Linked DNA regions of Homo sapiens: all the other regions are linked to region 4. The links come from fine-mapping of genetic effects on gene expression. A gene starts in region 4. Each other region holds a variant in brackets. All regions are shown on one strand. Distances are from middle to middle. Region 1 has its middle 6.0 kb from the start of EIF4A3. Region 2 has its middle 16 kb from the start of EIF4A3. Region 3 overlaps CCDC40 (coiled-coil domain 40 molecular ruler complex subunit). Region 4 holds the start of GAA (alpha glucosidase). Region 5 overlaps CCDC40 (coiled-coil domain 40 molecular ruler complex subunit). Region 6 has its middle 6.6 kb from the start of CARD14.

Region 1 (5,500 bases), 52 kb after region 4:
GACCCCTCCCCAACACACAAACATTGTGGGACATGAGGTGCTGGAGACGGGGTTGCTCACCCAGAGCTTAATGGGTCTGTCCACCTTTGTGACCAAGAGGCCTCTTTTCTTAGAGGCTGAGGGGCCCTGGGATGATGAGGGTAAATCCACTTTTTAGAGCAGGAATCTCCAAACCCCAGGCCACGGACCAGTATCAGCACCTGTCTGTGGCCTGTTAGGAACCAGGCGGTGCAGCAGGAGGCAAGCAAGGGAGCTAAACTGAGCTCTGCCTGCTGTCAGCAGCAGCACTGGACTCAGAGGAGTGTGAACCCTGTTGTGAACTGCACATGCGAGGGATCTAGGTTGTGCACTCCTCATGAGAATCTAATGCCTGATGATGGGAGGTGGAATAGTTTCATCCCGAAACCACTACCCCATCCATCTCTGGAAGAATTTTTTTCCACCACCTGTGGAAAAGTTGTTGACGTGGCTAGACTTTGTGTCTTCACCCACATCTCATCTTGAATTGTAATCCCATAATCCCTATAATCCCCACGTGTCGAGGGAGAAGCCAGGTGGAGTAATTGAATCACGGGGATGAGTCCCCCATGCTGTTGTCTTGATAGTTGTCTCGAGATCTGATGGTTTTATAAGGGGCTCTTCCCCCTTTGCTTGGCACTTTTCCCTTCCTGCCATCTTGTGAAGAAGGTGCCTTGCTTCCCCTTCACCTCCTGCCATGATTGTAAGTTTCCTGAGGCCTCCCAAGCCATGCTGAACTGTCAATTAAACCTCTTTCCTTTATAAATAACCCAGTCTCGGACAGTTCTTTATAGCAGTATGAAAATGGAATAATACATTTGTCTTCCACAAAACCCATCCCTGTTGCCAAAAAGGCTTTAGAAAACGCAGTGTGGGTAGGTGGTGAATAGATGGGAGGAGACTCATGTTTTTGTCATGTAGGAGAGCAGCAAGAGCTCCTCTCAGGAGAAGAGGTTTTTGCTGTGAAATATGGTGCGTGCTTTTCCATGGCCTATGTAGTGCTCAGCAGATGCCCTAGCATCAATAGGATCCCAAACCCCTTGTTCTGTTTATTACTGGTAGGCAGTTAGGATCGTGTCAGCCATGTCTTGAGAACATGCCTTGTGAGTCATGCACCAGATTTGTTAAAGTGTCGGCTCTGTGTAGCTCTGTTGTGCTATGCATAACATCTACTTAAAAAATGAGAGCTGACAGCCTCGCTTAGCTTTCTATCCACAAGTCCCCTGCTTAAAATTCTGGATAAATGTTTCCGTTCCTATGGGAAACCTCCATTATCTCCATAAGTAGAGAATGCAGATAGGTATCTTTTTTCTTTTACTGATGGAGACACTAAGGCCCAGTGTGATAAGTTCAAGCGCCCTACAGGGAAAGGCACAAGCAGGCCAGGCTCTAGAGTTCCCTAAACAGTAGCTATAGTGCCTGCCCTTTGTCCCTGGCCCCCAAGGTGTCTAGGAAAAGAGGCTCCCGGTCACTGAGGTAGACAGACCCCTATGCCTGGTCTCAGCATCCTCGCTGTCACCGGCATCTCACTTCCCACATGGTTTCCACGTTGGGGAGGGAGACTACTCACCCCATTAAATGCGGCTGCTAGGGTCATGTCTGTTTCGCCCCCACTGTTTCCCTAATGCTCAGTAGGTGTTCAATAAATAGTTGTTGGCTTACTCAATGTGTGGACCTCTGGGGCAAGAGAGAGGGAGGGACACAACGCAGTCCCAGCTGGCCAGGAGCGCTGTGAGCTCAGGAGGTTGCTGTGGGGGAGATGGTGAGGTAGGAATTTGGCAGGACTTGTTTCACAAGATAGAGGTCACAAAGACCCGCTGATAAAACAGGATGTGGTAAAGAAGCCTCCAAACTCCACCAAAAGCAGGATGGTGATGAAAGCAGCCTCCGCCTGTCCTCACTGCTCCTTATATGCTAATTATAACGCATCAGCTGCCAAAAGACACTCCCACCAGCCATGACAGTCTCCAAATGCTATGGCCACCCCTGAAAGTTACCCTATGTGGTCTGAAACAGGGAGGAACCCTCAGTTCCGGGAATTGCCCACCCCTTTCCTGGAAAACTCATGAACAGTCCACCCCTTTTTAGCATACGATTAAGAAATTACCATAAAAGCCAACTGGCACCCCTCAGGGCTGCTCTGCCTATGACGTAGTCACGCTTTTATTCCTTTACTTCCTTCATAAACCTGTTTTCACTTCATTCTGTTGGCTCACTTTTGAGTTCCTTCCCGTGGGAAGCCAGGAACCCACGTGGTCTCACAGGCTGAGTCCTACTTTGGGGGTTTGCCCTGTGACAATGGGAACAGCCCAGTGGTCTGCCACCCTCCAGAGCCGACCTGTCCCTTTTCCTTTACCTTCATCGGCTCCCAGGAATCAGGTAGAAAAGGGTGAGGTGGCTTTTCTTGCCCAGGAGGCTCAGGGGCAGTGCTGCTGGGCTGCACTGGGTTCCTGTAACTCATCACTGCAGGAGTTGATGT[C/T]CTAGATAGAAGTGACCTCGATCTGATCCAAGGGACCATCCCCTAAAAGTGACTTCCTGCCAGAAGTCTCCACCCATCCGTAGGTATTAAAGGGTGAACACTGTTCATTTCTAGGCACAGCCCTGCCTAAACCCAACTGGCTGGGGCAAGGCACCTTGCTGAGCGCTGCCTGAACTCACCTCACTGCTGTCTTGACTCTCAGACCCTGCACTGGCTGGTCAGAGTCTAGCACACGTGCAGTGTTAACAGAAAAACCAGACCCTGTAAAAATGTTTTCAAGAGGGTTATTCTGAACCAGTAGAAGTGACTGTGGCCTGGAAAAAACACAAACCCAAAAAGCCTTAAGTGGTCACAAGGTACCCAGGTAACAGTTTCTGTCAGGCCTCTGAGCCCAAGCTAAGCCACCATATCCCCAGGGACCTGCACATGTACATCCAGATGGCCTGAAGCAACCGAAGATACACAAAAGAAGTGAAAATAGCCTTAACTGATGACATTCCACCATTGTGATTTGTTTCTGCCCCACACTAACTGATCAATGTACTTTGTAATCTCCCCTACCCTTAAGAAGTTTCTTTATAATCTCCCACACCCTTAAGAAGGTTCTTTGTAATTCTCCCCACCCTTGAGAATGTACTTTGTGAGATCCTCCCCCTGCCCTCCAAAACATTGCTCTTAACTCCACCGCCTATCCCAAAACCTATAAGAACTAATGATAATCCCACCACCTTTGCTGACTCTCTTTTTGGACTCAGCCTGCCTGCACCCAGGTGAAATAAGCAGCCGTGTTGCTCACACAAAGCCTGTTTGGTGGTCTCTTCACAAGGACACGTGAGACAGTTTCCTTTTTTTTTTTTTTTTTTGAGATGGAGTTTCACTCTTGTTGCCCAGGCTGGAGTGCAGTGGCACAATCTCAGCTCACCACAACCTCTGCTTCCCAGGTTCAAGCGATTCTCCTGCCTCAGGCTCCCAAGTAGCTGGGATTACAGGCGTGCAGTACCACGCCTGGCTAATTTTTTCTATTTAGTAGAGATGGGGTTTCACCATGTTGGTCACGCTGGTCTCAAACTCCTGACCTCAGGTGATCTACCCGCCTTGGCCTCCCAAAGTGCTGGGATTACAGGCAGTAGCCACTGTGCCTGGCTGGTAACAGTTTACTTTTATACATTTTAGGTAAACAGGAGTTACAGGCAAAGATGTAAGTCAGTGCATGGAAGGTATACGTTTGGTTCAGCCTGAACGGCAGGCTATCCCAGAGCAGGGGCTTACAAGTCATACGTGGGTTTTACAGATTCTTTACTTGCCATTTGAGAGAGTTAAGCTATTATTTATATTACGTTTTGGGGGAGTCAAAAAGAGTTAAGCTACCGTCTAAAGACCTGAAGTAAGTAGAAAAGAATGCTTGAGTTAAGGCAGTTGTGGGGGTGAAGGCCCTTGTTATGTAAATGAAAGCCTCATAGGTTTCTAGCAGCCCTCCGAGAAAATGGATGGCAAATGTCTCTTTTCAGACTTTAAAGGTGTCAAGCTGTCAGCAAATCTCTCCTAGATCCAGGCAAGGCCTGGATATGTTAATGGACATTCTCTACAGATGCAAATTAATTTCCCCCACAAAAGATAGCTTTTTTTTTTTTTTTGAGATGGAGTCTCGCTCTGTTGCCCAGGCTGGACTGCAGTGGCACAATCTCGGCTCACTGCAAGCTCCGCCTCCCAGGTTCACGCCATTCTCCTGCCTCAGCCTCCCGAGTAGCTGGGACTACAGGCGCCTGCCACTGTGCCCGGCTACTTTTTTGTATTTTTTAGTAGAGACGGGGTTTCACCGTGTTAGCCAGGATGGTCTCAATCTCCTGACCTTATGATCCACCTGCCTCAGCCTCCCAAAGTGCTGGGATTACAGGCGTGAGTTCACCGCGCCCAGCCGAAAGACAGCTTTGCAGTGCCATTCCAAAATATGTCAAAGAAATATATTTCACAGAAAAATATTTTTATTTCCATTCTGTCATGTGTGCTCATCCAGAACCAGTTTGGAAAGGAAGCCACATTGTACCAGGTTAATTAAAAAAAAAAAAAGTTTGACAAGGGTTTATGGTTAGTAGGGTGTGAATCAGCCTTTGCCTGCCATGGCCTTAGGTCTTGTTTATAATTTGGTATCTTATTGCCACAAAGAGTCTGTTTGATCAATCTTATCTCTATTTTAACCTAAAAGAAAAACTTCAGCCTGTTGCAGGAAGCCAGGGACCCCGAATGGAGGGACCAGCTGAAGCCACAGCAGAAGAACATAAATTGTGAAGATTTCATGGACATTTATTAATTCCCCAAATTAATACTTTTATAATTTCTTACGCCTATCTTTACTGCAGTCTCTGAACATAAATTGTGAAGATTTCATGGACATCACTTCCCCAATCAATACTGTTATAATCTCCTATACCTGTCTTTACTTTAATCCCTTAATGCCATCATCTTCATAAGCTGAGGATGTCTGTCCCCTCAGGACCCTGTGATGATTGCGTTAACTGCACAAATTGTTTGTAAAACGTGTGTTTGAACAATACGAAATCTGGGCATCCTAAAAAAGAACAGGGTAACAGTGACTTTCAGGGAACAAGGAAGATAACCATAAGGTCTGACTGCCTGCGGGGCCGGGCAGAACAGAGTCATATTTTTCTTCTTGCAGAGAGCAAATAGGAGAAATATTGCTGAATTCTTTTCCCAGCAAGGAATAACCCTGGAAAAGGAATGCATTCCCAGGGGGAGGCCTCTAAAATGGCCACTCTGGGAGTGTCTGTTTTATGTGGTTGAAGATAAGGGATGAAATACACCTTGGTCTCCTGTAGTGCCCTCAGGCTTGCTAGGATTAGGAAATTCCAGCCTGGCAAATTGTAGTCAGACCGGTTGTCTGCTCTCAAACCCTGTTTCCTGTTAAGATGTTTGTCAAGACAATGCATGCCCAGTGGGACATGGAACCTCATCAGTAATTCTGATTTCACCCTGGCCTTGTGATCT
Region 2 (5,500 bases), 30 kb after region 4:
AATCCACAGTGTAATATTGAACAGAAGGGAGAGGACACCTGTGCCTTGTTCCTGAGAGGGTTACTGAAAGCCCCAATTGCCACTGTGGATTTGTCTATTTCCCCTTGCAGTTTTATCCATTTTTCCTTCCTATATTTCCTGTATTTTGAAGCTGTTATTAGGTGCATAGGTATTTAGTATTGTTATATCCTTTTAATGAATTACCCCTTTATCATTATCAAATGACTCTCTTTGTCCCTTGCAATATTCTTTGCTCTGAGATCTCCTTTGTCTAATATTAATAGAGCTGCTTCAGGTTTATTTTGATGTGTGCGTTACCATGGTGTATTTTTCTCCATCTTTTCACTTTTGTCTTTATATTTCTCATAAGCAATAGTATATAGTTGTGTATGGCTTTATAATCCAGCCTAACAATATCTGTCTTTTAATTTTGCAGTAGGCAATTTGCTTGTTTTCCCTTGCTCGTGCTTTTTGCTTTTTAAGTGTAATTTTAGAGGATGCATGAGATTCCTCATGATATTTGTGCTGAGATGTAATTCACATGCCATAACATTTACCATTTTAAAGTATGCAATTCAGTTGTTAGTACACTTGTACAACCATCACGATTATCTAATTCCAGAACATTAGAATCACCTTCAAAAGAAACCCTATACTCATTTTCAGCCACTCCTTGTTTCACCCATCCCCCTCCTCCCCCCTCAAGCTCCTGAAACCACTGTGAATGGTTTCCTGCTAATCTCTCTATGGATCTACCTGTTCAGGACGTTTCATGTAAATGGAATCACACCACGTGTGGCCTTTTGTGTCTGCCTTCTTCCACCTAGCATATTGCCGAGGTTCATCCAGGTTGTAGTGTGTCAGCACTTCATGCCTTTTTATTGCCAAGTAATATTGTGTGGATTCACCAGTTTTGCTTACAGCTGATGAACATCTGGCTTGTGTCCACTTTTTGGCTCTTATGAACAATGCTATGAACACATTAGGTTTATGTGTGCAGATTTTTTAATTCTCTTGAGTATAGACCTAGGAGGAGAATTGCTAGGTCAACTCCTATGTTCAACATTTTGAGGAACTGCCAAGCTGTTTTCCATAAAGGCTGTGCCTGTTTACAATCCCACTAGCAATGTATGGGGGTTCCAGTTTCTCCACATTCTCCTAAACACTGCAGAGCAGTATATTAGTCCATTTTCATATTGCTATAAAGAACTGCCTGAGCCCGGGTGCTTTAAAAAGGAAAGAAGTTTAATTGACTCACAGTTCAGTGTGGCTGGGGAGACCTCAGGAAACTTACAATCATGGTGGAAGGCGAAGACGAAGCAGGAACCTTTTTCACAAGGTGGCAAGAAGTGCCAAGTGAAGTGGGAAGAGCCCCTTATAAAACCATCAGATCTTGTGAGAACTCACTATCACAAGAATAGCATGGGGGGAACTGCTCCCATGATTCAATTACCTCCACCTTGTCTGTCCCTTGACATGTGGGGATTAGGGGGATTACAATTCAAGATGAGATCTGGGTGGAGGCACAAAGCCTAACTAACTATATCAATCAGTTTGGGAAAGTTATCTTCCAATCCATGAACCTGGGACATTTATATATTTAGGTTTGCAATGCCTTTCAACAAGCTATTTGTAGTTTTCGGTGAACAAGTATAGCCCTTCTTTTGTTAAATTTATTCCTACATATTTCACTCTTTTTGATGCAATTGTAAATGGAATTATTTTCTTAATTTCATTTTCAGGTTGTTCAGACTGCTAGTGTACAGAAACACTGGCTTTCCTATGTTGAACATATATTCTGCAACCTTGCTGACCTCATTTATAAGTTCTGATAAGTGATTTTTTAAATGTGTAAATTCCTTAAGATTTTCTAGGTATAAATCATGTCATCCGTGACTAGAGAGTTTTGATTCTTCCTTTCCGATCTGGATGCCTTATTTCTTTTCTTGCTTAATTGTCCTGGCTCGTAACTTCCAGTACAATGTTGGAATAGACGTGGCAAGAGCATTCTTGTTTTGTTCCCAACCTTAGCGGGTAATGCTGTGGTTTTTCATCGATGCTGTTTATCAGGTTGAAGCAGCCCCCTTCCATTCTTATTTTCTATCTTGAAAAGGTGCTGGATTTTGTCCAATGCTTTTTCTGCATCTGTAAATCATTATGTGGACTTTGTCCTTTATTCTATTGATAGGGTGTATTACATTGACAGATTTTTGGATATTAAACCAACTTTCCATTCCTGCGATAAATCCCACTTTGTCAGTGTACAATCCTTTTTATATGTTGCTGGATTTGTTTTGCCAGTTTTTTGAGGATTTTTACATCTATATTCATATGATATTGATCTAGTTTTTTTTGTGGTAGCTTTGTTTTGGTATCAGGTAATGCTGGCCTCAGGGTGAGTTGGGAAATGTTCTGCCTTATATTTTTTGAAAGATTTCGTGATCCAGCACTTTGGGAATCTGACGGGGGCAGATCACAAGATCAGGAGTTTGAGATCAGCCCGGCCAACACAGTAAAACGCCGTCTCTACTAAAAATACAAAAAATTAACCAGATGTGGTGGCAGGCACCTGTAATCCTAGCTACTGGGAGGCTGAGGCAAGGGAATCACTTGAACCCAGGAGGCGGAGGTTGCAGCAAGCCAAGATTGTGCCACTGCACACCAGCCCAGGCAACAGTGTGAGACTCTGCGT[C/CA]AAAAAAAAAAAAAAATTGTGATGGTGATAATTCTGTAAAAGTTTGGCAGGATTCACAAGCCTTGGCTTTCCTTTGTTGAAAGTTTGGTTACTGATTTAATCTGTTTGTCCTAGGAATTTCTCCATTTTATCAAGGTTCATCTGTTGGCAAACAATCCATGGCACTGATACTTTGTATTCTGTACAGTCGGCTGTGCCATCACCTCTTTCATTCTTGATTTTAGTTATTTGAACCTATTTTTCCTTAGACTTGCTAAAGATGTGTCAATTTTGTTGATCTTTTCAAAGAATGAACCGTTGGTTTTGTTGATTTTCTCTATTATTTTTCTATTCATTTATTTCTACTCTCATCTTTATTATTTCCTTTCTTCTGCTTCCTTTGGGTTTAGCTTGCTTTTCTTTTAGTTTGAGGTGAGACAGACAATCTGCAATAAATGTAATTATTGACACGGTTGTTTTCAACCTACTACCGTTTTGTATTTGTCCATCTCGTAAGTTCTCTGTTCCCTTTTCCTTCCTTTTCAGGATTCTTAGATTAAGTATTCCTTAGAACTCTTATTTTGTCTCCTACGTTGGCTGTTTATTTCTGTTTCACATTTTTGTATTGCTTTAAAGGTTCATACCTAAAAATTGCTTAACACTTTTATATATGTTTCACATCTTTAATTCATCACAATCTGCCTTCAAGTAATAGTGTAAGAATCTTGACAGTATACTTCCATTACTCCTTTCTTCGGTGCTGTGCTATTTTCGTCATACATTTTATGTCTATGTATTATTTTAAACAATCTTACTACAAAGAAACATGCCAACAGCATCAACATTACCATTCTATTTCTATACTTTAGACATACCTCAAAGGGTCAGGACACTCTAGCTCTTGGTTAGAACCCTTTTTATGTGGTTTTTCTTTTAGGAAAATTGCCTGGCTTTAAGACAAGGCATCCTATATGTATTTGTTGAATAAATTTCAACCACCCAAAAAAAAAAAACAAAACAAAAAAAAAAAAAATATACCATTAGGAGTATAAATTGGTGGAAAATCTTTCTGCAACGTTAATTTGAAACATGTACCTTGATCAAGAAAATCACTTCTAAAGATTATTCTGGGTGGGCACAGTGGCTCATGCCTAATCCCAGCACTTTGGGAGACCAAGGCAGGAGGATCACGTGAGGTCAGGAATTTGAGACCAGCCTGGCCAACATGGTGAAACCCCAACTCTATTAGAAATATGAAAAATTAGCCAGGTGTGGTGGTGGGCACCTGTAATCCCAGCTACTCAGGAGGCTGAGGCAGGAGAATCGCTTGAACCCAGGAGGTGGAGGTTGCAGTGAGCCGAGATCACACCATTGTACTCCAGCCTGGGCAACAAGAGCGAAACTCCATCTCAAAAAAATAAACAAATAAAAGATTATTCTAATTAATCTTCAACTGCTTCCAAAGGAGCCATGGTATAGAGGCTGGAAAAGTAGCTTTTTTTTTTTTAACGTAGTGAAATATGTATGATACATTACTAAGCAAAAACCTGAGTTAATAATGGCAAAGTGGGTTACAATTTTTGCTTAAAAAGGTCTTTATGTACAGGTAGATGTACAAGATAAATTAAAATACTGGATGGACAGTCATCAAATTGTGAGTTATATCTGGGTAGGAGGATTAAGGATGACTTTTTCAAATTATGCATTTGTATGTTTTTTTTCAGTGAGATTATACTTTTGTAATGAAGTACATAACCCAGGGGTTTTTCATCTGGATTTAGTTGCTGGGGACCTTGGGAAGCCCCTCAGGATCTAGAGCCAGTTTTTCCACCTGACCAGAGGCCCAGTGATACCTACCTAGCAAGGCTCAGCAGACCCCCTGCCTGAACTTGACTCCATTTGGACTCTGGGAGGATCCTGGCCCCAAACCACCCTCCCAAGAACCTCCATGAGTTCTCTACCTCTTGTATCCTTCTCTTCCCAGCATCACTGCAAATGTTCCACCCTGTCCCGCACCATGCCCCCATCCATGAGCACTTAGCATCCTTCCCTGGTATAGGCAGGAGCAACGCTGAACTTCCTGGAGAAGTCCACATTCCAGTCAGCTGTCTACAGCAGAACCACACACCACCAAAGGGAAATAGCATTTTCATCACTGACTGCCCAAGGGCCAGGCTGCTCTCCAGAAAGTCTGGAAACTTTCCTTGTCAACCTTTAGGACTGGTGGTTTTTAAATCTTGGATAATCACATACCATTTCTGATTTGTCAGTACAGTTTGACATTTTTATGAACACTTGTGCTGTATTTTTCCTTTTAGGATGACCTTTCCTAGACAGTGTGTGGGGTAGCTTAAGCCCCACCCCTTCTCCTGCCATCTCCTCCCCAAGGCACCAATGCTGCCTCCTCCACTGTAACACCACGTGCTTATTCATCTAGAATCATTCTTACTGGTAATGGAGGCCTTCCGTCCTCCGGAGTGACTGTGTGGAAACCTGAGCCACTCCTCACCTCTAACACAAGCCTGGCAGCAGCTCCTGATGAGACCAGGTGAGCCTCAGTGAGCTCAGGCGCCTGCAGATACGGACATTGAGGCTGGCACTGGCCAGAGCTGTGGTGGGCATCACTCCCCACTGCTGCTGAGCAAATGCCCTGAACACACCTGTATCTGGTTCCTCCTTGCCAGGAACTCATTAAGCTGCCTGGGCCTGTAGTCTCGTGCTCCTCCCGCTCGGCCAGCAGTGCCACCTGGGAGTCTTGTTACCTGCAGGTTCTCACTCAGCAAGCCAGGACAGGGCCCGAGCACTTGCATTTCTAACCAACTCCTGATG
Region 3 (5,500 bases), 39 kb before region 4:
TGATCCACCCACCTCGGCCTCCCAAAGTCCTGGGATTACAGTCATGAGCCACCGTGCCCAGCCAATGAAAAAGAAGGAAGAGGACTTGAAGGAACGGATGAGCACGCTGGGCTCCCAGGGTAAAGGGAGGGCCCGGGGCTGGGCGTTACTCAGCACTGGTCTCTCCAGCTACAAATGCAATTAAAGTAGAGCACGTCCCAATCAGAATCTCAGGAACAAACAATCCCTTAGTTAACAAAACAATTCTGGAGTTTTATCTGAAAAATAAATTAGGAAGGCTAGCCAAGAATGGTTTTGGAAGAGAAGATTCAAACGGGGCAAGCAGCCATCCCAGTCTGCTCAGGACTGAGGGGTCCCCAAGACAAGGGACTTTCCATGCTAAGCCCAGGGGGTCCTGGACACAGCAGGATGGCAGATCACCCTAGCATCGCCGCACCAAATATTAAAGTATACAGTAAAGCTCTGGCCAGGCAAGGTGGTGCACACCTGTAATCCCAGCACTTGGGGAGGCTGAGGCAAGAGGATGGCTTGAGCCCAGAAGTTCAAGACCAGACTGGGCAACATGGTGAGACCCTGTCTCCACAAAAAAATAATAATTAAAAAAAAATAAAACATTAGCCCACCATGGTGGTGTGCACCTGTGGTCCCAGCTACTCAGGAGGCTGAGGCAGGAGGATCACTTAAGCCCGGGAGGTCAAAAAAAAAAAAAGAACAACAACACTTTATTCTCAACGAATTGATTTTAAAGTTCACTTAGAAGACTAAATGCTCAAGAATACCCAAGAAAATTTTGAAAAGGAAGGATCATGAAAGATCCTTGAACTATGAAAGATCCAATGAAATATGATCATACCACTGCACTCCAGCCTGGGCTACGGAGCAAGACCCTGTCTAAAATAAAACAAAACCGTAAAGTTCTAGAGGCTAAAATAATGTGTCACAAGATAGACAGGCAAGACATTGAAGCCTATGAGAGAGCCCCAAAGCAAGCCAGAGTTTATATAAAAACCTAGTAGATTATAAATTACCAGAGAGCTAATGAATTATGCATCCAATGATGTCGGGACATTTGGTTAATCATTTGGGAAAAAATTAAATCTTTTCCTCATACCAGACACTAAAATAAATTCCAGATGGAATCAAGTATTTAAATGGGGGAAAATGTGCCAGACGAAAACAAATGAAAATATTTATATAATCCTGGGCTGGGGAGGCCTTTCAAAGTATAACACCAAAAGCAGGAACCTTAAAGGAAAAGACTAGGAGGGGCCGGGTAAGGTGGCTCACGCCTGTAATCCCAGCACTTTGGGAGGCCGAGGCCGCTGGATCACCTGAGGTCAGGAGTTCGAGACCAGCCTGGCCCGCATGGCAAAACCCCATCTCTACTGAAAATACAAAAATTAGCTGGGCGTGGTGGTACACGCCTGTAATGCCAGCTACTTGGGAGGCTGAGGCAGGAGAATCGCTTGAACCCAGGAGGCAGAAGTTGCAGTGAGCCGAGATCATGCCATTGCATTTCAGCCTGGGCGACAGAGCCAGAATCCATCTCAAAAAACAAAACAAAACAAAAGACTAGGAGGACAATCACACCCTCAATAAAACCTTTGTAGATTAAGGACGCCACAAACCAGATGAAGGCGGGGAGACAGGCAGGAGAAGACAACTCGCAGCCATTAGTAAATCCGGGGTTGTGAAGAGAGGCTGAAAGCCAAGGAGACTCGCCCTGTGTGCTTCCACACCCTGGAGGCAGGTGGGCTACTTGGTAGATGCTTCCTTTTGCACCTCCCGCCCTCCCCTCGATGCAACTTCCCCAGGGAAGGGGGCCGCCCGCACTTCCTTCATTTCTCATTTCCAGTACCCAGAACAGTGCGGGGGCAACAGCAGGGCCCCTGTTCATCGAGCGAAGTCACAAGTAACCAAAGGACAGGGAGTCCCCTACAGAGTTGGCAAAGATAAGGAGAGATGAGCCCTCCCTGCTGTCGGCCATGAAAATACAGATTGGCCTTTATCTTTATCAAGATCTTCATCCAGGGCGATATGATCATATGCAGCCACTCCCTCCCTAACCCTAACCCTAACCCCGCACCCTGTTAGTGCTTAGACTCCATTCCAAGGAACCTAGCAAAGACCTATGCAGATAACATTTTTGTATGTTAAAAATGATAAAGCCAGGCTTGGTGGGGTGCACCTGTAGTCCCAGCTACTCAGGAGGCTGAAGCAGGAGGAGCACTTGTGCCCAGGAAGTCAGGGCTGCAGTGAGCTATGATTGCACCACTGCACTCCAGCCTGGGTGACAGAGTGAAACCCCCGTCTCTAAAGAAATAAATACAGTGAATAGAGACTCATGGGGGAGATGACGCTCATCACCGTGTTGTGTCATCAGAAAGAAAGACCCCAAGAAGAGGACATTAGTGAAACCCATTTTCATACACCTGTGCATCAGAATACACTACACCAAAAAGAGCTCTACTGACATGGAAACCTGTCTCGATATTAATTTCTTATTTTAATTTTTTTTAAATTATACTTTAAGTTTTAGGGTACACGTGCACGATGTGCAGGTTTGTTACATATGTATACATGTGCCATGCTGGTGTGCTGCACCCATTAACTCGTCATTTAGCATTAGGTATATCTCCTAATGCTATCTCTCCCCCCTCCCCCCACCCCACAACAGGCCCCGTTGTGTGACGTTCCCCTTCCTGTGTCCATGTGTTCTCATTGTTCAATTCCCACCTATGAGTGAGAACATGCGGTGTTTGGGTTTTTGTCCTTGCAATAGTTTGCTGAGAATGATGGTAGAGACTAAGTCTCACTCTGTCCCCCAGGCTGGAGTGCACTGGGGCCCTCATGGCTCACTGTAGCCTCAAACTTCTGGGTCCAAGCAATCCTCCCACCTCAGCCTCTCAAGTAGGTAGGACTATAAGCACATGCCACCACACCGTGCTAATTTTTTTATTATGATTATTCTTTTTGTAGAGACGGTGTTTCTTTTTGTTGCCCAGACTGGTTGGGAACTCCTGGCCTCAAGTAATCCCCCCGCCTCAGCCTCCCAAAGTGCTGGGATTAC[G/A]GGCATGAGCCACCGCACCTGGCACAATACATTAATTTTTAATATGGCGGGGCATGGTGGCTCACACCTGTAATCCCAGCACTTTGTGAGACCGAGGTCGGCAGATCACCTGAGGGTCAGGAGTTCGAGACCAGCCTGGCCAACATGGTGAAACCCCGTCTCTACTAAAAATTCAAAAATTAGCCAGGCGTGGTGGCGAGTGCCTATAATCGCAGCTGTTCGGGAGACTGAGACAGGAGAATTGCTTGAACTCAGGAGGCGGAAATTGCAGTGAGCCAAGATCGTGCCATTTTGCTCCAGCCTGGGTGACGAGAGTAAAAGTGTCTCAAAAAAAAAAATTAATAGGAGATTATGAAACAATATATAGAATTTGATTTCGCACACACACACAATCACAGGTGTAAGAAGTTAGAAATGGTTATCTCTAAGTGTTAGGGTTATTGAATTTTCATTTTCTTTTTGCTTATTTGCACATTCTATTTGCATAGGCTGAACACTTGCCTTTGTGAAAAACTGGGGTCTAAATGCACAGGTGACTGAGCCCGGCAGCCATCTTTCCATCCTTATGCCTTGACCTGCACCTCAGTCAACCAGGCTGTGGCCGGCAGCCTCAGGGGCACCATGGGGAGGCCTCGCACAGGCTCAGTTTAAGGTGCATCCTGGCTGAATTTGGGTCCCCACCTGCTGCCTGGGCCAGCTCCCACTGCCCAATGGCACAGAGCAGCCTCCTTAGTGAATAACTTACCCCCATACAAAACTGTGACCCAGCAGTCCCACGACTGGGCATTTATCCAAAGGAAAGGGAATCCGTGCATCCAATAGACACCTGCACCCCCATGGCCAGGCTGGTCTCGGACCCCTGACCTCAGGTGATCCGTCCGCCTTGACCTCCCAAAGTGCTGGGGTTACAGGCATGAGCCGCCGCACCTGGCCCAGTCAACAATAATTTATTGTACATTTTCAGATAGCTAGAAGAGAGGGTTTTGAATGTTCCCAACTCAAAGAAATAACAATTGCTGGAGGTGACTGATACGCTAATTACCTTGATTCAAGCAGTACACATTGTACATGTGTCGAAATATCACTCTGTACCCCAGAGATATACAGCTGTAACATGTCAGCTAAAATAAAAGGAAATACTACAGACAAAAGGGAAGTCAGTCCCGGGATGTACACAGTGTCCCTTCCTAGGCTGCCCAATAATCCTAAGTAAGCGTCTGTGAGAGGAAAAAAAAGTCCCCCTCATCGTGGTATACTTAATTCACACCATTTTAGGTTACGTCGTAATGAATAGATGGTTCAGAAACCCTCACAGCCAAGCATGGTGTCTCCAGGGCGATGGCCTCTCTCATGCCCGGCGCTGCCCTCGGCTCCCCCGTGATGTTCTAGCGCACTGTGGTTCAGTCACTGTCTACCAAGCTTGCCTGGGTGTCACGGCGTGCAGGCACTTCTGGGACTTGGCGTTCTACAGGACGCCCCAGTTGGCTGACTCGGGCCGCCAGCTTGCTCAAGTCACAGTGCTTGCATTGGGGATGACTCATCAAGAATCCCAAACACCACTCAAAACAAGACCGCGATCCAGGCCGTGCTGGGCATGCAGGCATCAACTCACTTGACCCGGCAGCCCCGGGGTCGCTCCTGTACCCATGGAGGTGCCGCTCCTGTACCCATGTCACAGCTGGGGACACTGAGGCACAGCGGGTGAGATTCAGCCCAGGCAGCCGTACCAGCCTTAACCTCTGTGCCCCAAGCATAAAGGAACTCCCCTTTCCCTTGGAGTAAATTCCTGAACCACCCCCCTAGTTTTCAAGCCCCTCCCCTGCATGGGCCAAGCCCTTACTGCAGGTGGCCCCTCACTGCCCCCCACGATGCCCCTAGACTTCCAGCCTCCGCTCAGCCTGCCTGACCTGCCCACCCCTGGCTGTCCAGTTGTGCCTCCTCATTCCCAGTCTAGGCAGCCCTGCTTCCCCCAGCTGGACGAGAGCATCCAGCCCTGGCCATTCTTGAGACAAACACCTCCTTCCATCATGGCCTCCCTACAGGAAGCGGTGCTGGGCCCGTCCTGTGGGACCTCAGTCCGAATCAATGACACCACCAACCCTGCAGAGGTGTTTCACGGATGCTGGCCAGGATCCCCTCCTCCTCTCCCTCCTCCTCTCCCTCTTCCTCTCCGTCTTCCCCCTCCCCCTCCTCCCTCTCCCCCTCCTCCCTCTTTCATCTCCTCCCCCTCCCTCTCCCCCTCCTCCCTCTTTCATCTCCTCCCCCTCCCTCTCCCCCTTCTCCCTCCTTCATCTTCCCCCTCCTCCCTCTCCTCCCCTCTCCCTCCTTCATCTTCCCCCTCCTCCCTCCCCCTTCCTCCCTCTCCTCCCTTCCCTCCTCCTCCTCATTCCCAAGCACTGAGCACCGCAGGCCCTGAGCAAAGGCTCAAAG
Region 4 (4,000 bases):
GCTGCACTCCAGCCTGGGCGACAGAGCAAGACTCCATCTCAAAAAAAAAAAAGAATGCCTCCTAGATGGTGATGATGGGTGACCCATAAAGCACCGACCCAGTGCCTCTCAGCCTCTTCCCTGAGATCCAGGGGCGCAACACCTTCACGCCGTCCCTTTTCAGGCGTAGGTCTCGCCTCCTCTTCGGCATTTCCTGGAATCTGAGTTTGTGGGGGGCCAGCAGGTGTCTTTCTTCTGGTTTGCATAGCCCTATATGGAGTCTCTTTTCCTACCCAGAACCTTTCAGAGATCGTGGCCCTGCAGACACGCCTTAAGCACCTGCAGGCTGTGAAGGAGGGGCGCTACGTGTTCCTGTTCCGCTCCAAGCAGTCCCTAGTGCTGGAGCGCCAGCGCCTGGACAAGCGACTGGCTCTCATCGCCACCATCCTGGACCGCGTGCGGGACGAGTACCCCCAGTTCCAGGAGGCCCTGCACAAGGTCAGCCAGATGATCGCCAACAAGCTCGAGTCACCAGGGCCCTCCTAGGGAGCAGCCTGGACTCCGCCTTGCAAGGCCTCCAGGAAGAGATCCGGAATTGTGTTTGTCATGAGGGACTTGGAATCTTTTGTGTTCCTAAAAACCACATGTACCCTCAGAAGGGCATCGTTTAAGAGAAATAAGCCAGCCCCACCCATAGGAATCTTTTTAGCCACTCAGCAATTTAATAAACCAGGTAAAATCCTAGCGTTTCCCATGGCATCCCATCGCAAAGACAGAGCCTGTGACTGCAGACCCACACACCCACACTCCCACACTGGGCTTACTCGTCCAGGTAACACTTTGGTTTGCAGCACTCCCAAATCTGCACGTGCCTCTCACAACACAACGCTGCCACAGGTCCACAAGCTGGTGGGCTGAGCAGAGGTGGGAAAGTTAAGGCAGCTCCAGCCAGCCTGGCCCGGGAGGCTGGTCCCCCCAGCACTTCCCTCTACTAGGTGCATCTGAAAACCCACAAACCACCTTCTTTACCAGTTTTCCCATCCCCACCCCTTAGAACTCTCAGGTCCCTTTTCCTGCCCCCATGTCCCCATTTGAGTTAAATTCAGATCCACAGCTTGCAGGAGAAAGTCAGTGGCCCCAGACACACGTAACAGGGTGAGCACTGAAATAAGAGCACGCTGGGGCGTCCACACCAAGGGACTACGCCCCAGTCTGCCCACCTATCTTTTCTCCATCATTAACCCAGCGCTCTTTCTCCCTGGACTTCCAAGTACCAATGACCTTGGGGCTTCTTTGCAGTTTAAAGGGAAAATGCTCTACAAAATAATTTCACTTTCAAACATTTCAGCAGAAGAATAAAATCTTTTTTCTGAATATCTAGTAAGCCTTTCTGAGTCAGCCTTACTTATTTTAAAACATTGTAGAAATACAGAAACCACAACAGAGGTGGAAGGGAGGCTTTTGTTTTTTTTTTTTTGAGACGGAGTCTCGCTCTGTCGCCCAGGCTGGAGTGCAGTGGCGCGGTCTCGGCTCGCTGCAAGCTGGAAAGGGGGCTTTTAATGCCCCTATGCCCCTACCCAGGAACAACACCTCTGTGTTTTGGTGTGGCTCCTTTTGTATTTTTCTGCACATACATTTTATTAGGCAAGTTAAGGTTATACTGTGTGTTTTTTGTATCTCACATGTAAAAATGTGCTCCTCTTAATGTAAGCATTTTCTCATTTTATGAAAAAATTCCCCCTGTGTCAGTTTAATGTTTTCTCAATTGTCAGTTTTATGGGTTATCACAATGTTTTGATTATTCCTTTCTGGAATAACTGTGAGTTATGGAGCACACTTAAGGACTTTCCAAATGTTGGCTGTTTCTAACTTGGCGCTGAGCGCCTTTGGCCGCCTTTCCGATGATGCCCTCGGGACGCGTTGGCAGGAGGAATCCCTGGGCGCAAGGCGCGGCTGGGCCAGCCCCTTACAAAGCCCTACGAGCTGCGGGGACCCAGGCCGGGGCAGCGGGGGCCACGCCCCATCTCCGACCCCACGGGGACCGGGCCGGGACTGCGCCAGCGGGGGCCTCGCCCCGTCTCTGACCCCAGAGGAACCGGCAGCGGGCAGCACGCGTGGGCCTCTCCCCGCGGGACGCCGGACGCGCAGCCAGACGCGCTCCCCAGGCCCCCTCCGAGAGCGAGGACGCGCCCAGGCCCGCTCTGCCGGAGCCGCCACTGGGGGGCGTAGCGCGGACGCGCACCCTTGCCTCGGGCGCCTGCGCGGGAGGCCGCGTCACGTGACCCACCGCGGCCCCGCCCCGCGACGAGCTCCCGCCGGTCACGTGACCCGCCTCTGCGCGCCCCCGGGCACGACCCCGGAGTCTCCGCGGGCGGCCAGGGCGCGCGTGCGCGGAGGTGAGCCGGGCCGGGGCTGCGGGGCTTCCCTGAGCGCGGGCCGGGTCGGTGGGGCGGTCGGCTGCCCGCGCGGCCTCTCAGTTGGGAAAGCTGAGGTTGTCGCCGGGGCCGCGGGTGGAGGTCGGGGATGAGGCAGCAGGTAGGACAGTGACCTCGGTGACGCGAAGGACCCCGGCCACCTCTAGGTTCTCCTCGTCCGCCCGTTGTTCAGCGAGGGAGGCTCTGCGCGTGCCGCAGCTGACGGGGAAACTGAGGCACGGAGCGGGTGAGACACCTGACGTCTGCCCCGCGCTGCCGGCGGTAACATCCCAGAAGCGGGTTTGAACGTGCCTAGCCGTGCCCCCAGCCTCTTCCCCTGAGCGGAGCTTGAGCCCCAGACCTCTAGTCCTCCCGGTCTTTATCTGAGTTCAGCTTAGAGATGAACGGGGAGCCGCCCTCCTGTGCTGGGCTTGGGGCTGGAGGCTGCATCTTCCCGTTTCTAGGGTTTCCTTTCCCCTTTTGATCGACGCAGTGCTCAGTCCTGGCCGGGACCCGAGCCACCTCTCCTGCTCCTGCAGGACGCACATGGCTGGGTCTGAATCCCTGGGGTGAGGAGCACCGTGGCCTGAGAGGGGGCCCCTGGGCCAGCTCTGAAATCTGAATGTCTCAATCACAAAGACCCCCTTAGGCCAGGCCAGGGGTGACTGTCTCTGGTCTTTGTCCCTGGTTGCTGGCACATAGCACCCGAAACCCTTGGAAACCGAGTGATGAGAGAGCCTTTTGCTCATGAGGTGACTGATGACCGGGGACACCAGGTGGCTTCAGGATGGAAGCAGATGGCCAGAAAGACCAAGGCCTGATGACGGGTTGGGATGGAAAAGGGGTGAGGGGCTGGAGATTGAGTGAATCACCAGTGGCTTAGTCAACCATGCCTGCACAATGGAACCCCGTAAGAAACCACAGGGATCAGAGGGCTTCCCGCCGGGTTGTGGAACACACCAAGGCACTGGAGGGTGGTGCGAGCAGAGAGCACAGCATCACTGCCCCCACCTCACACCAGGCCCTACGCATCTCTTCCATACGGCTGTCTGAGTTTTATCCTTTGTAATAAACCAGCAACTGTAAGAAACGCACTTTCCTGAGTTCTGTGACCCTGAAGAGGGAGTCCTGGGAACCTCTGAATTTATAACTAGTTGATCGAAAGTACAAGTGACAACCTGGGATTTGCCATTGGCCTCTGAAGTGAAGGCAGTGTTGTGGGACTGAGCCCTTAACCTGTGGAGTCTGTGCTGACTCCAGGTAGTGTCAAGATTGAATTGAATTGTAGGACACCCAGCCGTGTCCAGAAAGTTGCAGAATTGATGGGTGTGAGAAAAACCCTACACATTTAATGTCAGAAGTGTGGGTAAAATGTTTCACCCTCCAGCCCAGAGAGCCCTAATTTACCAGTGGCCCACGGTGGAACACCACGTCCGGCCGGGGGCAGAGCGTTCCCAGCCAAGCCTTCTGTAACATGACATGACAGGTCAGACTCCCTCGGGCCCTGAGTTCACTTCTTCCTGGTATGTGACCAGCTCCCAGTACCAGAGAAGGTTGCACAGTCCTCTGCTCCAAGGAGCTTCACTGGCCAGGGGCTGCTTTCTGAA
Region 5 (5,500 bases), 21 kb before region 4:
CAAAAATAAACAATAAAACAGCTGCTGCGGTGTTTTCCCAAGTGACTGGTTCCAATTTGCATTTTCTCCAGCAATTTATGAGAGTCCCAGTTGTTCCACATCCTCGCCAACATTTGGTATTATCAGTCATCTAATTTTAGCCATCAAATATAGCCATTAGCAAATGTGTGGTGCATCGCCTTGCGGTCTGAGCCTGCGTGTCCCTAATGACTAGCGATGGTGAGCATCTCTTCCCCGGCTTATTCGCTATTCCTGTGCCTTCTCTGGTGAAGCAACTTCTGCTCATTTTTCCGCTGAGTGGCTTATCATTGAGTTGTAAGAGTTCTTCATATCTTCTGGAGACATCTTTTATCAGACGTGTGCTTTGAAAATATTTTTGTCCCAGTCTGTGGCTTTGTCTTTTTTACCTCTTTACAGTGTCTTTTGAAGAGCAAAAGTTTTAAATTTTTGTGAAGTCCAACTTATTAAATATTTTCTTTCCTGATTCATGCTTTTTATGTCTTCTCTAAGAAATCTCTAAGGGTCAGGCCGGGCACAGTGTGGCTCATGCCTCTAATCCCAGCACTTTGGGAGGCCAAGGTGGGCGGATCACGAGGTCAGGAGATTGAGACCATCCTGGCTAACACGGTGAAACCCCATCTCTACTAAAAATACAAAAAATTAGCCGGGCGTGGTGGCGGGCGCCTGTAGTCCCAGCTACTTGGGAGGGTGAGGCAGGAGAATGGCATGAACCTGGGAGGCGGAGCTTGCAGGGAGCCAAGATCACGCCACTGCACTCCAGCCTGGGCAACAGAGCGAGACTCTGTCTCAAAAAAAAAAAAAAAAAAAGGAAAGAAAAAGAAATGTCTAAGGGTCACGAAGATTTTCTCCCAAGTTTTCCACTAAAGTTTTCCAGGTCTCGCTTTTAGGCATCTGGTCCATTTCAAGTTCACGTTTGTTGTGGTATGAGCGGGGTCCAGGCTCAGGTTTTGTGTGTCTCTCTCTAGTTGTCCCAGCACCACTTGTTGAAAAGACTGTCCTTTCCGTATTGAAATCCTGTGACACCTTTGTCAAAGATCAATGTATTGTGTGTGTGTGTCTGTTTCCAGACTCTCTATTCTGTTCCGTTGATCTTTTTGTCATTCTTTCACCAATACCACATTGTCTTTCTAACTAGAGCTTTATGGAAAATCTTGAAATCAGATAGTCTGAGTCTTTGATGTTGTTTTACAAAATTATTTTGGTTACTCTAGGTCCTTTAGGTTTCCATTTAAATTTTAAAACTTGCTTGTCAATTTCTGGGGAAAAAATGCCTTCTGGGATGTAACTGAAATTACATTGAATCCATAGATCAGTTTGAAGAGAATTGAGGCCTTAATAATATTAAATCTTCTGCTTCATGGACATGGCAAATCTCTCCAGTATCAGTATCTTTTTTTTTTTTTTTTTTTGAGTCAGAGTCTTGCTCTATCACCTGGGCTGGAGTGCAGCGGAACAATCTCAGCTTACTGCAACATCCGCCTCCTGGGTTCAAGTGATTCTCATGCCTCAGTGTACCAAGTAGCTGTGAACACAGCCACACACCACCACGCCCGGCTAATTTTTTTTGTATTTTTAGTAGAGATGGGGTTTTGTCATGTGGGCCAGGCTTCCTTTCTCTATTGATAGTGTCTTATCCTTTGAATAAGTTTTTATTCAAATAGTCAGAAAGTACTTTCTTCTTGGACTAGAATAATACCTTCCATATTTTTCTCACATCTCTCCCCAGTCTTTCAATTCTCTTTCCCAAGCAACCTGTTACTGTTTCATAAAGGTCTTTCCAGATAGATTTCGTTCATACATATGCATTATTCTCGGGTGTTTATCTCTCCACTTAAAAATCACCCGCGGCCGCTTAGTGTGTCCCGCTCTGCAGCTTGGTGTTTCTTGTGCTGTGTCTTAGAGTTATTCCATGTCAGAACACATAGAAATCACCGTTGTTCTTTGCAGTTCTCTTCACACTGTGTTCTAAATGATGCCTGTGCCATAATTTAATCATCCTCATCGATCCATAATGAGGCCCTTTCCTGTTTTTTGGCTTTTTCTGATCTCATCAGTGGATCAATAAATATCCACACACATTAAAAATAGATACTGGATCACCAGGCACGGTGGCTCATGCCTGTAATCCCATCACTTTGGGAAGCTGAGGCAGGTGGATCACTTGAGGTCAGGAGTTCGAGACCAGCCTGGCCAACAGGGCGAAACCCTGTCTCTACTAAAAATACAAAAAAAAAAAAAAATAGGCAGGCATGGTGGCACACGCCTGTGGTCCCAGCTACTCAGGCAGCTGAGGCATGAGAATCGCTTGAACCCAGGAGGTTGCAGTCAGCCGAGATCGCGCCACTGTACTCCAGCCTGAGTGGCAGAGCGAGACTCTGTCTCAAAAAAAAAAATACTGGATGGCCAGGCGCAGTGGCCCACACCTGTAATTCCAACACTTTGGGAGGCCGAGGCAGGTGGATCACTTGAGGTCAGGAGTTCAAGACCAGCCTGGCCAACATGGTGAAACCCCATCTCTACAAAAATACAAAAATTAGCTGGGCATGGTGGCACACACCTGTAATCCCAGCTACTTGAGTGGCTTGAGGCTGCAGTGAGCTGAGATCATGCCATTGCACTCTAGCCTGGGTAACAGAGTGAGAGACTGTCTCAAAAAAAAAAAAAGA[A/AAGAC]AGAAAGGAATGAAAGGAATGTTTAAAGTACCGCAGAACATCTCAGAATAATAGGAAAACATGCCTCACACACACAAAATTCAAATCCTCATGCTGAGGCGTAAGAATGACTTGAACCCAGGAGGCAGAGGTTGCAGTGAGGCAAGATCGTGCCTCTGCACTCCAACAAATACAGGATTTGAATCTGATTATTTCATTTGAATCAGTATTTTAGATCTGATTATCCGATATCTGTGTTTTAGAGCTTGACGTTAATTACAGGTATCTCATCGCAGCATGCCGAGGGGAAAGACAATAGAATTTGAAGTGGGCCCACTGGTGTTCCCTCAGCCACGCTGTTTCCTGCAGACCTTGGGCTAGTGATTGAAATGCTCTGAGTCTCAATGGCCACATCTGTAAAGCTGGACTATTTCCTTCCTAGGATTATTGTCATGGTTAAGGAAGGTGGGCAGATGAGAACCCCTAGCCCAACGTCTGACCCATGCGTCACTTTCCTTCTCCCCATAATCACAGTACAAAAGAGTTGTCAACTTGGGCTTTCAATAGATAATAGTTCTCTTGATCTATTTGAAAATAATAGTCAAGATTTGGCTATTGGCTGCAAAAATACAGTGAGGGAGAAGGAACAAGGCCCAGTGTTCAATAGCATGTCACAGTGACTACAGTTCACGGTAAGTTAGTGTATATTTCTGAATAGCTAGAGGAAAAGATTTGGAATGTTCTCAACACGAAGGAAGGATCATGTGTGAGGTGATAGATGGCCGGTTCCCCTGATTTGATCATGACATGCTGTATGCTTGTGTCAAAATATCGCATGTACCTCTCAAATATGTGCCAATCTATCCATAAAAATTTTTTAAAGATTTGGCTGCTATTAAAAGAGTTGGTTTCCTGCTGGGTGCAGCGGCTCACACCTGTAATCCCAGCACTTTGGGAGGCCAAGGCAGGCACATTGCTTGAGCTCAGGAGTTGGAGACCAGCCTGGGCAACACGGTGAAACCCCATCTCTACAAATAGAGTTTAAAAATTAGCCGGGCATGGTGGCGCACACCTGTAATCCCAGCCACTCAAGAGGTTGAGGCATGAGACTCGCTTGAACCCGGCAGGCGGAGGTTGCAGTGAACCGAGATCGCACCACTGTATTTCAGCCTGGGTTACAGAGTGAGACTCTGTCTCAAAAAATAAATAAATAAATAAATAAATAAGAGTTGGCTTCCTAATTTATTTCTCTGTGCATTGAGTTCGCCTTAGTGAGCTCCCTCGTGTGGGGCGCAGCTCTGTGCACTGGCTCTCTGATGTCTCACACGTAACTGGCTCTCCCCGCTGCATTTCTACAGAGGATGCCAGCATCAAGCCAAATCCACCGACGGCGAGATTGAGGCCTATAAGAAATCCATCATGAAGGAGGAAGAAAAGAACGAGAAGCTGGCGAGCATCCTGAACCGGACAGAGACGGAAGCCACACTGCTGCAGAAGCTCACCACCCAGTGCCTGACCAAGCAGGTGGCCCTGCAGAGCCAGTTCAATACCTACAGGCTCACCCTGCAGGACACAGAGGATGCCCTCAGCCAGGACCAGCTGGTGAGGCCGGGCCCGCCCCACAGGTCACACCTGGCGCACGGTGGTGCCTCTTCAGGCACGTGCACCCTGTGGCTCCTTGTCTCCAGGAACAAATGATACTCACGGAGGAGTTGCAGGCCATCCGCCAAGCCATCCAGGGCGAGCTGGAGCTCAGGAGGAAGACGGATGCTGCCATCCGGGAGAAGCTGCAGGAGCACATGACCTCCAACAAGACCACCAAATACTTCAACCAGCTCATCCTGAGGCTGCAGAAGGAGAAGACCAACATGGTAGGCCCCTGCCCCAGGGAGGGGCTGTGCGAAGCCCCCTGCAGCCTGGGCATATGAGGGCAAGCCGTCCTGGAGGCGGAGAGGGCGGAGTCAGTGTGAGCAGAGGGCCCTCCTGTGCTCACTCCTTTCCATGGTGTTCAGGTTGTAAGGGTGATACATTTTTACTGTAGAAAACCTAGAAATAGGCCAGGCGTGAGCCACCGCATGGCCAGCTGCCAGCCAAAGGCTGATTTCCCTGGGGGGACCTGGAGTGTGACTTCGACGTCCATGGCAGGGAACCCCCAATTGTGAGCTCATGTTCGCATCCCCTGGGATCTTGCTTTATCCTTTATCACCTGTGGTGGGGGTGGAGGGGACTTGTGTCCTTAGAAAAAACAATTCCTTACTTGAATTGTTTTTTCTTTGCCTCTTCCCGAGGGGTGACCGCCTCCCCAACACCCCGCCTCAAGCAGGCCCCTTTGGAGGACCCCCAGAGGCTACCACAGGCTCCACCATTTCCAGAGCACATCCTAGCAGTGGGGCCTGCCCAACAGTCCCCATTTTAGTCTCAGAGGAGGGTGACAGATTCCCGATGCCAAGCTCTGCCGGTTTTGCCCTCCTGAGGGGTGGGAAAGGAGCTGGCCAGGCAGAGCTGAAGGGCGTGGTGGGTGTGAAGGAGCCCATCCAGCCGTGCTGCTACCAGCCAAGTCCAGTTCCCAATCCCCAGGCCCCCGGGCCCCCGCCGAGCCCCTGTCTGGGCAGCCCGATAGGTCATACGTGTTTTGCTGCCAGTTTCCAGAAGAGGGCAGCAAAGAGTCTTGGACCAACACATTCGTCTATTACGACAATTTTCCAACCGATGCCAGTCCAGCTGCTGAAAAGAGTACCCCCGACACGATGTTTGAACTGCTCAAAGCCTCATGGGCTGATAGAAGGTGGGGTGGGGAGGCATATCTGGGAGGAGGAGCAAAGTGTGGATGGGCG
Region 6 (5,500 bases), 62 kb after region 4:
TGCTGGCACTTTTGTGGGCAGACCATTATCTCTCCAGGCCACTCCCTGATGGGGGAGTTCCATAGCAGGCATGCTTTGGTCTGTAAATCAACTGTTAACTCTCCAGGAGTTAGATGCACTTGCCGGGGGATCTCGAGGGACTGTCTGGTGAAGGAGGGGAGAAAAGGCTAGATTTGCATACCTAAAGGGCTAAGTAGGAAGTCAGGAACTGGGAAAAGGAGAAAAAAAGAGAGGAAAAAAATAATTAAACATCTTTTAGAAAAATGGGGGTACTCGGAAACAAAGCCAGTTATCCCAATCTGTGGTCAGCCTATCGCCCGTGGAGTCGTATCCCTTGGTGGGCTGTGTTTTCATAGCCTCTAGGTAACACAGGCACACCTCAAAATTGGGGCTTAGCCTGAGAGAGTTCTTGGCTTTGCTCAGGAAATAATTTAAGAGCAGGGCTAACCCACAGGGAGAGGCTAGAGTAGCAGTAAACAGCAGCAGGAGGAGGAGCAGCAGCAGCAGCAGGGGCAGCCACAGCTGCAACAAGGGAGCACTGGCTAGCCACAATTACACCCGGTCTTAATTATATGCTAATCAAGGGGTGGGCTATTCTGAATTTTCTAGAAAAGAAGTAGGGGAGTTCTGGAACCATGTAGGGTATTGCCATGGCATTTATAGGCTGTCATAGTGCCGTAAGGAAGGTCTTCATGCTGATGAGCAGTGAGGGCAACTGGAGGTCACTTTGCTTTCCATCTGCTGGTTTCAGCTGGTTTTTTTCTTTATTTATTTAAGCCTGCTTTTTTTTTTTTTTTTTTTTTTTTTTTTTTTTGAGATAGGGTCTCGCTCCATTGCCCAGGCTGGATCGCAGTGGTACAATCATGGCCTACTGCAGCCTTGACCTCCTGGGCTCAAGCAATCCTCCTGCCTTAGTCTCCCAAGTACCTGGGCCCACAAGCACATGCCACCATGCTTGGCTAATTTTTTAATTTTTTGTAGAGATGGGGGTCTCACTATGTTGCCCAGGGTGGTCTCAAACTCCTGGGTTCAAGTGATCCTCCTTTTGCAGCCTCCCAAAATTCTGGGGTTATAGGCATGAGCCACTGCACCCAGTTTGCATCCTGCTTTGACCAGCAGGGTCATTACCGGTGCTCAGAAAACAAATCCGGCTGATTTCCCACCTCATTGGTGCCCCAAACCATGCTTTTTGTCACCCCCTGTAGTAATAACCATTTTCTGTAAGCAACTGCCATCAGCCACCTCTAAAACTGTATCTCTTGCCTAGCCATTACGCAAACCACGGTCAAGTTTTCTCACAATACAGGGTCATTTTTGGTATCTCCGAAAAGCCAAAGAAATCGGGTAATACTGTGCAAAAGAGAGCGGAGCGTTAGACCTCAGGAGACTCTCCATGTGGTGCTTGAAACTCCACAAGGAAAGCAGAAGACCTCCAACCAACGGTGAGTGGCATCTTTTTTTTCTGAGTTCCTTAAGGGGTTTGGGTCATTAGAAATCTCTAGATCTCTTTACATGGTACTGAATATGGCAGCGGAAGCAGGAGTGGGGCGGAGTAAAAGTATATGGGAGAACAATTTTTTTTAAATGAAGTGAACAGAGGTGTCAGAGGCGTTCGAACCAGAGTGACTCCATCTTGAACAGGGTCTGGGTAAAATAAGGCTGAGGCCCACTGGGCTGCATTCCCAGGAGGTTAGGCACTCTTAGTCAGAGGATGAGATAGGAGGTTGGCACAAAATATAGGTCACAAAGACCTTGCTGATAAAACAGGATGCGATGAAGAAGCCAGCCGGAACCCACCAAAACCAGGATGGCGATGGAAGTGACCTCTGCCTGTCCTCGCTGCTCATTATATGCTAATTATAATGTGTTAGCATGCAAAAAGACACTCCTACCAGCGCCATGATGGTTTACAAATGCCATGGCAATGTCAGGAAGTTACCCCGTGTGGTCTAAAAAGAGAGGGAATCGGTCGGGTGTGGTGGCTCACGCCTGTAATCCCAGCACTTTGGGAGGCCGAGGTGGGCGAATCACTTGAGGCCAGGAGTTCGAGACCAGCCTGGCCAACGTGGTGAAACCCTGTTTCTACCAAAAATACAAAACTTAGCCAAGCATGGTGGTGCATGCCTTTAATCCCAGCTACTCAGGAGGCTGAGGCATGAGAATCGCTTCAACCCAGGAGGCGGAGCTCGCAGTGAGCTGAGATTGTGCCACTGTACTCCAGCCTGGTTGACAGAGTGAGACTCTGTCCCCCCTGCCCCCCAAAAAATCCTTTCAAATCTCTTGTTACCAGATTTTAGCTGGGCCAAACAGCTGATAATTCTTTTTGTATAAGACCCAGAACCATCCCAAAGACAGCTCAAAGAAAGTGAAGTTTCACTAGCCACAAGTGGAGTCTAACTCACATTTCTGTTCAGCTGTATTCTCTAGGGTCTCAGCTTCTCAGCTGACCACCTGCACATAAGGGTCCAAAAGCCCTGTGTCCCAAAGACAGAAGGCAGGAAATCAAAAGCTGTTCATGGAAGGGATAAGGATCAATAAATGGAAGCCAGTAGGGACTGATTCCCTGATCAGGAGGCAAACCCAAGCCGCAGTGAGAATTTTAAATACCAGACTCCAAAATGGAGTAGCTTCCATTGTTAATCCCACATGGAATCCAAAGTGTGCAGTTTGGTTGTTTTGTTTGTTTGTTTTTGTTTTTGTTTTAATTTTTTTAAGAGATAGGGTCTCACTGAGTAGCCCAGGCTGGAGTGAAGTGGTGCAATCATAGCTCACTGCAGCCTCAACCTCATGGGCTCCAGCGAAACGCCTCATCTTGTCTTTAACCTCCAAACTGGGCTTGTGCCAAGTTCACTTTGGGAGACATTTAGTTTGTGGTTTAAATGATAATAGCCCTTCTCCAAAACTAAACTGTCATCATAAGGCTAATGAAAGTCTACCAAGTTAGGACGATGAAAGGAGCCTGAGTTCTGCTGATGTGTACGCATAAATCTAAGAT[T/A]GGCCTTTTGAGATGTCTTTTCAGGATTTTGCATTTCTTCTTCTTCTTCTTTTTTTTTTTTTTTTTTTTTTGAGATGGAGTTTTGCTCTTGTTGCCCAGGGTGGAGTGCAGTGGCCCGATCTTGGCTCACTGCAACCTCTGCCTCCCGGGTTCAAATGATTCTTCTGCCTCAGCCTCCAAAGTAGCTGGGATTACAGGCGTGTGCCACCACACCCAGCTAATTTTTTATTTTTTATTTTTAGTAGAGATGGGGTTTCACCATGTTGGCCAAGATGTTTTTGATTTCCCGACCTTGTGATCTGTCTGCCTTGGCCTCCCAAAGTGCTGGGATTACAGGCGTGAGCCACTGCGCCTGGCCAGGGTTTTGCATTTCTGATAGCTGATGGCTCCACCTGGACCTGCCAATGTGTCCTGTGGCCTCACCCAGAAGAAGACTGTCACCCCTGTCATTGCATCTGCAACCAACCAGCAGCACTCATTCCCAGGGCCCCCAAACTATCCTTGAAAACTCCTAGCCTCCGAATTCTGGGGAGGCTGGTTTGAGTCATAATAAAACTCCAGTCTCCTGTTCAGCCAGCTCTGCATGAATTAAACTCTTTCTCTATTTCGATTCCCCTGTCTTGATAAATTGGCTCTATCTGGGAAGTGGGATAAATGAACCCACTGCACGGTTACAATAGCAGCATTCACGAGAGCCCGATGGCCATGAACAGACAAATGAATCGACAACGCACGGCGTTCACACAATGGAATATGATATGGCCACATCCAGGACGAGGCACTGACACAGGCTATGACATGGAAGAGCCTCAAAACATCATGCAGAGGGGAAGACACCAATGCAAGAGGCCACATATTACACAACTCCACGTATATGAAATGTGCAGAACAGGCAAATCCAGAGATGGAAAGCAGATTGGTGGTTGCCTTGGACCAGGAGCTGCTTAACGGGTGTGTGGTTTCTTTTTGGGTGGTAAAAATGTTCCGAAACTAGATATAGTGGTCACACAATGTTGTATATTTACTAAATGCCACTGAATTGTGTTTTTTTGTTTGTTTATTTGACGGAGTCTCACTCTGTGACCCAGGCTGGAGTACAGTGGCGTGGTCTTGGCTCACTGCAACCTCCACATCCCAGGTTCAAGCAATTCTCCTGCCTCAGTCTCCCCAGTAGCTGGCATTACAGGCATGCACCACCACCCCTGGCTAATTTTTTTGTATTTTTATTAGAGACGGGGTTTTGCCATGTTGCCCAGGCTGGTCTCGAGCTCCTGAGCTCAGGCAATCCTCCCAGCTTGGCCTCCCAAAGTTCTAGTTCTAAGATAACAGGTGTGAGCCACCATGCCTGGCTTGAATTGTTCATTTTATTTTATTTTATTTTATTTTATTTTATTTTATTTATCTTTTTAAGACAGAGTTTCACTCTTGTCACCCTGGCTGGAGTGCGATGGTGAGATCTTGGCTCACTACAACCTCCACCTCTGGGGTTCATGCGATTCTCCTGTCTCAGCGTCCTGAGTAGCTGGGATTACAAGCACCTGCCACCAAGCCCAGCTAATTTTCATGTTTTTTTCTTTTTTTTTCTTTTTTTTTTTTTTTGAGACAGAGTCTAGCTCTCTCGCCCAGGCTGGAGTGCAGTGGCGCGATCTTGGCTCACTGCAAGCTCCGCCTCCCGGGTTCACGCCATTCTCCTGCCTCAGCCTCCCGAGTAGCTGGGACTATAGGTGCCCGCAACCATGCCCGGCTATTTTTTGTATTTTTAGTAGAGACGGGGTTTCACCGTGTTAGCCAGGATGGTCTCAATCTCCTGACCTCGTGATCCACCCACCTCAGCCTCCCAAAGTGCTGGGATTACAGGCGTGAGCCTCCGCACCCAGCTAATTTTTGTGTTTTTAGTAGAGATGGTTTCACCATGTTGGCCAGGCTGGTCTCGAACTTCTGACCTCAGGTATCTGCCCACCTTGGCCTCCTAGAGTGCTGGGATTATAGGTGTGAACCACCGCACCTGGCCTGAATTGTTCATTTTAAAAATGGTAATTTTGGCTGGCCATTGTGGCTCACACCTGTAATCCCAGGCCAAGGTGGGTGGATCACTTGAGGTCGGGAGTTCAAGACCAACCTTGGCAACATGGCAAGACCCCCATCTTTAGAAAAAATAAAATAAAATAATTAGCCAGGCATGGTGGCATGCACCTGTAATTCCAGTACTTTGAAAGACTGAGACAGGAGGATCGCTTGAGGCCAGGTATTTGAGACCAGCCTGGGCAATATGGCAAGACCCCATCTCTACAAAAAAAAATTTTTTTTAATTAGCTGAATGTGGTGGCACATGCCTGTAATCCCAACTACTTGGGAGGCTGAGGCAGGAGGATTACTTGAGCCTAGGAGTTTGAGGCTGAAGTGAGCTATGATCACACTACTGCAGTCCAGCCTGGGCAACAGAGCAAAACCCTGTATTTAAAAAAAATTTTTTTGTGGCCGGGCATGGTGGCTCACGCCTGTAAT

What was found. PIP is the estimated chance that this variant, and not a neighbour inherited with it, causes the effect.
Region 1: its variant is the best candidate, but not a certain one, in a credible set for the expression of GAA in thyroid (GTEx, PIP 0.75).
Region 2: its variant is the best candidate, but not a certain one, in a credible set for the expression of GAA in neutrophils (CEDAR, PIP 0.75).
Region 3: its variant is the best candidate, but not a certain one, in a credible set for the expression of GAA in whole blood (TOPMed, PIP 0.59).
Region 5: its variant is the best candidate, but not a certain one, in a credible set for the expression of GAA in NK cells (Gilchrist 2021, PIP 0.56).
Region 6: its variant is the best candidate, but not a certain one, in a credible set for the expression of GAA in whole blood (TOPMed, PIP 0.90).

The regions. Positions count from the first base shown.
Region 1 is chr17:80,150,408-80,155,907 of GRCh38, forward strand. No RefSeq gene overlaps it. Among named protein-coding and RNA genes, the nearest start is that of EIF4A3, 6.0 kb to the left of the region's middle. RefSeq lists enhancers at 1,997-2,498, 2,499-2,998, 5,149-5,500 and a silencer at 5,289-5,489. The variant C/T (reference allele first, on the strand shown) is at 2,498.
Region 2 is chr17:80,128,447-80,133,946 of GRCh38, forward strand. No RefSeq gene overlaps it. Among named protein-coding and RNA genes, the nearest start is that of EIF4A3, 16 kb to the right of the region's middle. RefSeq lists a silencer at 5,112-5,277. The variant C/CA (reference allele first, on the strand shown) is at 2,693.
Region 3 is chr17:80,059,797-80,065,296 of GRCh38, forward strand. The region is part of intron 9 of CCDC40 (coiled-coil domain 40 molecular ruler complex subunit); the gene reads left to right. The region is part of intron 1 of LOC124904074 (a long non-coding RNA gene); the gene reads right to left. Among named protein-coding and RNA genes, the nearest start is that of CCDC40, 26 kb to the left of the region's middle. The variant G/A (reference allele first, on the strand shown) is at 3,071.
Region 4 is chr17:80,099,251-80,103,250 of GRCh38, forward strand. It overlaps GAA (alpha glucosidase), which reads left to right and starts at 2,331. Exons shown (of 20, transcript NM_000152.5): 1 at 2,331-2,640. It overlaps CCDC40 (coiled-coil domain 40 molecular ruler complex subunit), which reads left to right. Exons shown (of 20, transcript NM_017950.4): 20 at 277-1,363. The coding sequence ends at 525. RefSeq lists a silencer at 1,878-2,497 and an enhancer at 2,828-2,937.
Region 5 is chr17:80,077,522-80,083,021 of GRCh38, forward strand. It overlaps CCDC40 (coiled-coil domain 40 molecular ruler complex subunit), which reads left to right. Exons shown (of 20, transcript NM_017950.4): 11 at 4,025-4,268; 12 at 4,355-4,537. Among named protein-coding and RNA genes, the nearest start is that of MIR1268B, 19 kb to the right of the region's middle. RefSeq lists an enhancer at 4,935-5,436. The variant A/AAGAC (reference allele first, on the strand shown) is at 2,688.
Region 6 is chr17:80,160,678-80,166,177 of GRCh38, forward strand. No RefSeq gene overlaps it. Among named protein-coding and RNA genes, the nearest start is that of CARD14, 6.6 kb to the right of the region's middle. RefSeq lists a silencer at 2,753-3,047. The variant T/A (reference allele first, on the strand shown) is at 2,996.